2 separate regions of the Homo sapiens genome follow, and region 1 is linked to region 2. The links come from fine-mapping of genetic effects on gene expression. A gene starts in region 2. The other region holds a variant in brackets. All regions are shown on one strand. Distances are from middle to middle. Region 1 holds the start of DHRS9 (dehydrogenase/reductase 9). Region 2 holds the start of ABCB11 (ATP binding cassette subfamily B member 11).

What was found. PIP is the estimated chance that this variant, and not a neighbour inherited with it, causes the effect. A credible set is the group of variants that fine-mapping cannot tell apart.
Region 1: its variant is the best candidate, but not a certain one, in a credible set for the expression of ABCB11 in nasal epithelium (TOPMed, PIP 0.69).

Annotation. Positions count from the first base shown.
Region 1 is chr2:169,065,571-169,069,968 of GRCh38, forward strand. DHRS9 (dehydrogenase/reductase 9) reads left to right here and starts at 3,993. Exons shown (of 5, transcript NM_001376924.1): 1 at 3,993-4,147. The variant G/A (reference allele first, on the strand shown) is at 1,847.
Region 2 is chr2:169,029,565-169,033,962 of GRCh38, forward strand. ABCB11 (ATP binding cassette subfamily B member 11) reads right to left here and starts at 1,760. Exons shown (of 28, transcript NM_003742.4): 1 at 1,661-1,760.

The sequences.
Region 1 (4,398 bases), 36 kb after region 2:
ACAGAGTGCATACCCTTTCATATTTTTCTCCATATTCACATAGGTATCTTTACATATGTACACAGAGTTTGCTTTACAAAAATGAGGTCATGGAAAGCCTTCCAAGTCAAATAGTAGAGCTCGAGTTTGTTCTATTTAGTGGCTGCAAAATAATATTCCACTGTGCATATGTACCACAATTTATTCAGTTATCTCACTACTAGTGGGCACTTGCTTTGCTCCCAGTTCTTTTTGCCCCATCCTGTTCATATACACTTATATACATTTATATAGGATAGAATCCTAGGAGCAGGATTTTTGTCTCAAATAGTAGCTTTTTATTTTAACAGATTTTTTTTCTGGACAGCTTTCAAAAAAGGCTGTAGCAATTCACATATCCATCAGCAAAGGATAAGATCGCCCTTTCCCCCACAATCTTAAATAGTCTCAAGGAGCCAGCAAGAATCAGGGGTTCTCCAAGGAGAGGGGAAAGTCTATGAGATTCCTTACTCAGCAATAAATGAGCTAACAGTGAATTATTCCTCAATAGAAAGGCCCCTTTCTATTCATCTTTGGATCTTTTTAGCCAAATAGGCCTCACACAGAACCAAAGCCCAGAACAACCCAAAACAGGGTCTGAAGTCCAGAACAACCCAAAACAAAGTCCAGAACAAGCCAAACAGGATCTGAAGACAGTTGTCTCTAACTCACTCCTCCCCACTTCATGAATCCCCGTGAGTTCTTTCCCACTGGATAGTACTTGCATATTACACAATCAGCTGCATCTAGCATCTGCTCTTAATTTCATTTGATATTTTATCATCTCAGTTAAGATTCTGGGAAAAAGAAGTTGCCTTCTTTTTGAAAGGGATTGAAAGAAACTAGGAAACTTGGCAGGAAGATCATTCTTAAGCCAGGAAAAAAATTTTTAATGCTCACATGTGAACATGTGATGGTCATACCAGAAGGAGCACCCACCTCCCTCCCTCTGTGACAGACACATTTTCTTAGCCTTCACCTTTCCTTCTTTCAAGTTGCTGAAAATCCACAGTGTTTCTGTTCATTTGTTACTTTCATTCTCACCTATCTTCTCTCTTGCTCCATCTACCAGAACAATAATTCCCCATATAATACTTCTCACTTCACTTTTCAACGCAGGACCTCTTGTTGGGTAAGCTAAAAGGATATGTGCTCTGTAAATAAGAAAAATCTTTATTCAAAGAATCTATCAAATGTTCCCATGACTCCATCTCTATTTGTATATCTAAAGATTGCATAGTAGAGAAAAACAAAAGATTAGCCCTGCTTCATCTTACAGCTGGGAGAGTCATGAAAGGCCAAATGGGTAACAAAGCTCCTGGTTTTGACCAAGCCTAGCCAAAGAAGCTACTCAAATGTCAAAGGCATTGTTTGTATAAAAAGGGAACCAAAGTACAGGTTCCCTTTACAGTAGAAATAAGAGAACTCCCTGTTGACAAAGGGAGGAGGAAGAAAATATAAAGTACACTTTTAAAACATGAAGTCTTCATAGCAGCTTATAGTCGTTCAGAGAAACATGTTCCACTGAGAATGACTTGAGAGAGAGGATTACATCATTATGCCAGAAGGAAGAAGCCACTGTGCATGCTCTATCACCAGCCTCACCCTCCTGGTCAGCCTTACAAGAGTGACACTGGATATACTCCAGAAGTTGGACCCACCACAGCCTGCACACTGGAGTAAGTGCTTTCCTCCAGTTGAAGCTCATCTTAGAATGATCTGTGACTTAGACCATCCCCAGAATGGTGTAGTTGCAGGAAGCCTAACGTATGTCTCCTGAGACAGCCTCAGATCTGAGTTTCCTCCTTATGTTTTGGTATTTGGAAAG[G/A]GGTGGAGAAGATACTCTTGGGTAGAAGTATGGGAGGCATACAGATTCAGAAGAAAAAGGATAACTCTATCTTTAGTGTGTTGTCTGTGGTGGCATCTAGCCTTACCACTGTATACTTACATTCCACCTACAAACATTAAAATAAAATGCACAGTGCACTCCTTTGTTTTAAAAAGGAACTAGGAAAAAACTCAAATGGCAATTTGGTTCCAGATTTTTTTTTTAATGTGATCTTTGATCTGAAGTCAATGTAGGATGAGTTCTGAACAAAGTAGCACTTTCAAAGGTTGTATATTAAAGAGGTGAAATGAAAGACAACTTGGCACTTGAGATATGAATTTGAATGTGTATATGGTTACAGTCTGGATAAGACACTGCTAACATGACTTCATTAACTGATCGCCTATGTGGGACCATTGGACAAGGAGAGGGGGTGTTCTGGCTGTGGTGCCATATACTGAAACTGAACCCATGAGTTGGGCCCACAGGAATTGAGGGACAAGCCAGATAGATGGCAAGAATTCTAATTTCCAATATGCAAATCAGTCTAAACATTTGACTTTTTTTAAGTCTATTTGGAAAGTTTTTGAAACACGGCTGCACTAGGCGAGTTCATTAAGTAGCAAAATTTTAACTATTGTTATAACTTTTTCTTTGCCCTTTTCAGTTAACACTGCATGACCACCCAGGTGCATGAGGCTCTCTTCTCCTCTTAGTGACAATAACAGGCTCACAGGAAGGGTTCAGTATTAATTATTTATACCTTACTTCATGTGGCTCTAAGTCAATGTATTGTCTATGAGGTTTTATATTTAAGCCATACTTATGAAATGCTAAAGAGGAAAAAGCATATTTAGCACATTTGGGGCACCCTAAATGTGAACCTGAGTAAATTTCAGTTTGTTTGTTTGTTTGTTTTTGTTTGTTTTGAGACGGAGTCTCACGCTGTTACCCAGGCTGGAGGGCAATGGCGCGATCTTGGCTCACACGCAACTTGGCCTCCCAGATTCAAGAGATTCTGTCTTAGCTTACCAAGTTGCTGGGATTACAGGTGCCCACCACCATGCCTGGCTAATTTTTTGTATTTTTAGTAGAGATGGGGTTTCACGATGTTGGCCAGGCTAGTCTCAAACTTCTGACCTCAAGTGATCCGCCCGCTTTGGCCTCCCAAAGTGGGTTTGTTGTTCTTTTAAAGAAAAAAGACCACTACTTATTTTAAAGGGTGATAGCAGTGTCCTGACTCTACCTAGACAGATATGTTCATTCATGTGCTCATTCCAGTTGAACCATAATAACTGCAATTTTCAAAGGAGGAATACAGAGTCTGGGAAATCAGAAGAGTATAGCAACAAACTGGTATACGAGGAAACTGAAAATGAAAAATCAGCAAAGTGGTATTTGTACCTGCCTGAGTGGCTACAGTGGTGAAGGTGAAGGGTGGCAGGCTAGATTAGCACCATCTCCTCCCCTCCTCGCCTGCGGCCTCAGTACTTTCCACTGTGGTCCCAGGATACGCCAGGTCAACTGTGATCAACTCTGACACAGACAAACTCTGGGAGGGGAGGAGGCATCCTTTCCTATTCTCAGCGGTCTCAGTTCCAGAGACCACTTTAGTAAGCTCTCCTTGTCATACCTTAAAACATAAATTAAGACCCATAAGTAATTCCAAAACCTCATTTTATTATGTTGTTTTTATCTCCTTGCTCGCCCATCTTAAAAAAAATGGTAACACCAATCTCAGAGACTGATTTCTCCTACTTATTCTCTTAGGAGGGAAGGAGTGTTAAATAAGCCAAGGCATGCTAACAGGAAGGAAAAAATGGAGATTATGAAGAATAATCACAATTTGAAAACTATTAAAACCACGCACCAGGCAGTTTACAAAATATTTATTTCTTTGTTATATTATTTCTGCTGCTGAATTTGGTCAAGAGATTGTACTAATCATAAAATGAATGTTATTGATCATTTTAAAGTCTCTTCTAAAAGTAGCTAAATTTATACTGCTGATTCCTTTTGAAACATGCGACCTACAGCTTCTTGGCTTTTATGAGCTATTCAAGAGATATTTAGTCATCACGTTGTGTCACAATGGGAGTGACTCACAGAGCAAGGAGAGAACCTGAGGATTCCTCACACATGTAGTACTCAGAGCTCTACGGAAACCCAGGCACCTCGACCTCAAGAGGATCAGCCTGGCCAGGGTGGCACAACTCTTCCTTCCCCGTGCACAGCAGGAAAGCTGCCATCAGCTGAGCAAGTCCACCAACAGTTTCTGTGTCCCACTTCATCTTTAATAAGGTAACTGATGACAGTTTTGTCATTTATTCTTTTATTTATCAAGTCAATCTAAACTTTCTTTGATTTTCCTCACTCTTGCAGAATGAATCGGTGGTCTTTCAAGCTGTGGTCAATGTTGCTACTTCTTTTAATGTAACACATTAGAACCCAGTGATGGGAGCTGGGTCCATCTCACCATAGAAATGACCTCGGTGTGACCTGGGATCTTGCCTTGAACTCCTCCAGGACTCTCTTTGAATGTCCTTTAGCAC
Region 2 (4,398 bases):
GGAAATAAATACACGGTGATCCCATTGGCCACGTAAGTCCTTTCTTCAGAGGCACCGTTGAGGTAGAGGACTAAAGAATTGCTTAGGAAGAAAACAGAATGTAACACCAAAGTTAACTGCCACAGCGATTCTTTGTCTCTAAATGTACAGTTCTTTCCTCTTTTTTTTTTTTTTTTTTTTTTTTTTTTGAGAGGAGTCTCGCTCTGTCGCCCAGGCCGGACTGCGGACTGCAGTGGCGCAATCTCGGCTCACTGCAAGCTCCGCTTCCCGGGTTCACGCCATTCTCCTGCCTCAGCCTCCCGAGTAGCTGGGACTACAGGCGCCCGCCACCGCGCCCGGCTAATTTTTTGTATTTTTAGTAGAGACGGGGTTTCACCGTGTTAGCCAGGATGGTCTCGATCTCTTGACCTCATGATCCACCCGCCTCGGCCTCCCAAAGTGCTGAGATTACAGGCGTGAGCCACCGCGCCCGGCCAGTTCTTTCCTCTTGACCAAGCAAAACACAACTCCAGTATTTGATTTCTGCAATGAAACTTGGGCATTTTATGGCAATTGTAGCATCTTTTAAAACCACAAAATGGGCATTTTCCCCCTAAATAGCTTCTTAATCCATTTTTAGGAGTCATCCCCTAATATTTGTCACCATTATTCTTGGTACTAGGAAACAAAAATTATTCAAGGGGCTTGCAATCTAGAGTGGGGTGGAGTGTAAACAGAAGCTCCTAGACAGGGAAATGGAGGCTTCAACCAGAGACAATCACAGTGTTACAGAGCACAGCAGGGGGAACCAAGGTGAGGGGGGTGAGCAGTGAGGGGACGAGGTTGCCCACAGAAAAGAACTTCTATTAAACAACAGCTCATAAATAAGTTATCACTTCAAATGTTTAATAAAAACCACTACTAACTCCTAATATTAAAAAGTTTTAGGTATAACCACTATAATTTGTCTCTAACATCTCTAAAAAGCTATTCCCCCTCAAAATGTTGACAAATACTGTCTTTTATTCCCAGTCTGAAGTGTGAATAATATTTGATCTCTGTGCTCAAGCCATTAGCAATATGTGACTCCCACTGGCTTGGGTGACCTAAAAACTGAAATTAGATCCTAGAAACAAACTTTCTCCCCTCTAAACATGCATCCACAGCTCATTTTTTTTTGCATCTATATTTTTGAAAACCGGGACAATGAAGAAATGAGTACGGTGTTGGAGAAAAGATAAAGTCGGTGTAGTTCTGCATTAAACCAGCTTTCAAGGGTAGAATTTGTGATCATTGAATCTGTGATTATCAGAGCAAACAGAATTGTGCTTTCACAAAGCCAAGTTAAAAAAGAAGCCCACTGGTATTTTTACTTTGAGCAGATTATTCAATCTATTCGGCCATTTGTACCACACACCCATGTACACCACTCTCTCTCTCTCTAAGAGATTGATACATGAAATAGCATTGCTATAAAGAAGACAGCAACCAAGAGTCATCTGTATTGTATACAATGTTGTGAAATCATTAATGCATCCTGTAAGTTTCTATCCAAGTATTGTAGCGTTGTTTACACTGGACAAGAGACCAATGTTTAATAAACCAGAAACACTCCACTCCACAAAGTAAGAGTTAAAGGGAAGAGGGAATGGATTTGCAGAGACAAGTATAAGTTACTTACCTGTGAATATGAATTTGAGGAAGCCAGAGGAAATAATGGACTCCACTGTGGAGAGTTAAAAGGTTTCACAACCTTTTCCAACCTCGGTTTTCATCATTCTAAAGCACTGAACAGAATTCAAACTTTTTCAAGAACATTATCTATTTGCCTAAGGATCAATGTCCCTAAGGGCAGCCCAAGCACAGTTCAGTGACATACGAGAAACATACTCAGAGCAATAACCCCAAACACAGAGTGTGCTTGGGAAACCCTCTGAGGGTGTCAACAGGCCTTGGAAATTGCTGATTCACCTTGGAACGAGAGGCAAATTGAGCAGAGTGGGCCCAGCAAGAGCCCTGGAATTCAGGCTATCCCAACCCTTATTTTTTACAGGCCTGTAGTTGTGAAAAGTTACTTAAAAACATAACAAGACAAAAAAAAAAAATACCTTTAAACTTTCCCCCTCAATATAAAAGATTGCTCTTGGAAAATCCCTGGTTGCAGGATCCAGATGCTCCTGGCCCAGCTATAGAGTTTTGTGGAGACAAATACCCTAAAAGAACATTTGAAACAGCCTTGCTCAAAAGTCTGAGTGCACAGACAACTCTTGCACCCTGGCATGGACACACCAGATGAAGCTCTGTATAAGCAAAGATGAACGATTTTCTAAAGGTTCAAATGAACAGGTCTTGAGTCAAATAAGCATGTGGAGCTCCTCCAATATATTTGTGCTGCCTCTTCCTCTCCCTTCTTGTGAATCTTTCCATTTTTCCTACAATGTTCTTATTTTTTCTCCTTTGCCTGAGCTTACTTTTCCCTAAATGCCTCTCACTCCAGCCTTCAGCAATGAATAATAATAGGCAACATTGGTCAAGACTTGGTTGGGTGCCTGGCCCACTTCAAAAATGTTATTTGTATCACCTCATTTGGGCCTCTCAACAGCCCTAGGAGTTGGGTGCTATCATGTCATTTCTATTTTATAGTTGGGGAAACTGAAGCACAGAGAGGTTAAATAATCCTCCTAAGGTGTAACAACTAGTAGATGTGAAGCCACATGCCAGTCTGTGCTAACCTTCTTCCACTCTGTGCTCTGAAATGCAATTGATGGGCCAGTGCTTCTTAATTTGCAGAAATTAAACTGTAAGATCAAATTTTCTCAATTTTAGGTTTCTCTGTCATAAATTTTTTATTAAAATTCAGCATCCACCATTTTTTCTCTATTGGAATTTATGTATAAGATGGTTTATGACTTAGCCCATAAAACCCAAAATTATAACATATAATTTTATATGTTATTATATGTTCAAATCTCAAATATATCAAGGTCAGCAAAGAAAAGCAAGATTTCTAGATGTTTCCTCTATGCAAACTGAATGGGTTGACTTCTGAGTTGACGCAAATGTAGTAATATTGGATTTGGCACCAATTAGGACCCAGGAAAAAAATTTTGCTTCACACAAAACCAAAAAGGCAACACAGCTATGGGGCTGTAGCTTTGATTGGGAAAAGATTCCCAATAGAATTTTGCTACCTTTGCTGTGCTGAAGTTATTGACAGCAGTCAAAGGGTAAAAATGCCAAGAGAAATTTGTCAACTCAGGACTATAGCTGATCTGCTCACAGGTCCAAGGGTCCTAAGACTTTCCTTCTGGTGCCATGAAGATCCAAGGGAAGATAAAAGCATAGAGTTTTAGAGCTAGAAACAACATTGTAAATATTGATATATCATCCAACAACTTCATCTTATAGATGAGAAAAGTGAAGACAGAGTGGCCATCTGTCCAGGGCCCTGGAGAGTTCAGGGTGTCTTCCTCTGCACCCTCATGCTGGCCAGACACATCTGGGCAGTGTGAGTACTGAGTTGATCGTGCTTAATTCACTTCAGCTATAAGCTTGTCTTCTTTATGGTTCACGGTCTGAAAATAGGTAGGGTTGTGGTCCCTACAGTCACCCAATTAAAATACCGGCTCTTTTTGAATGTTTATGTGCCAAACACTGTTCTCAGTTCTGGGATTCAGGAATGAATAAGACAGACGAGAATCTCTGCCTCAGGAATCTTACATTCTGGGGGCAGGGAGGGGGCAGTATAGAGAGGAGACAAAGAAGTAACACATACAATACATCAGATGGTGTAAATGGTATGGAGAAAAGCATTGCAGGAAAGGGATATGATAGGGAGTGTGTGTACGTATGCTGTGTGAGAGAGAGAGTGTGTTTGTGTATGTGTGTGTGTCAGTTAGCGTGTGAGGGGAGAAGGATGTTGCCATTTTTAACTGGGTTTTATGGAAGGGCCCACTGAGATGGTGACATATGAGGAATGACCTGAGGGAGGTAAAGGAACAAGTACATGGGTATCTGGGGAAACCACATGGGCAAAGCTCTGGGCAGGAGCATGCCTGGTGTATGTAAGGAAGCTGAACCTGGAGTGGAGTAAGCAAGACTGAAGTCAGCTGGGGATTATGTCAGTGTGGCGGGAATCATGGAGTGCCATGAGCTCACAGGGCAGTGGCTCTGAAAGTGTGACTACTGGACCAGCAGCAGCCTCCTCATTACCCAGTAGGAATGTATGTTCTTGGTCCTTTCCTGAGACCTACTGAATCAGAAACTCTGGGAGTGGGGCCCAATGAGCTGAAGCTTGAGGACCACTCCTGTAGAGCCTTGGAGGTCACTGTGGACCAATTTGGAACCTGTTTCAAAACCTTAGCAAAAATGTCTCAGAGAAAGCTCTAAACCACAATGGTAGAATTCAGCCAATAGTTG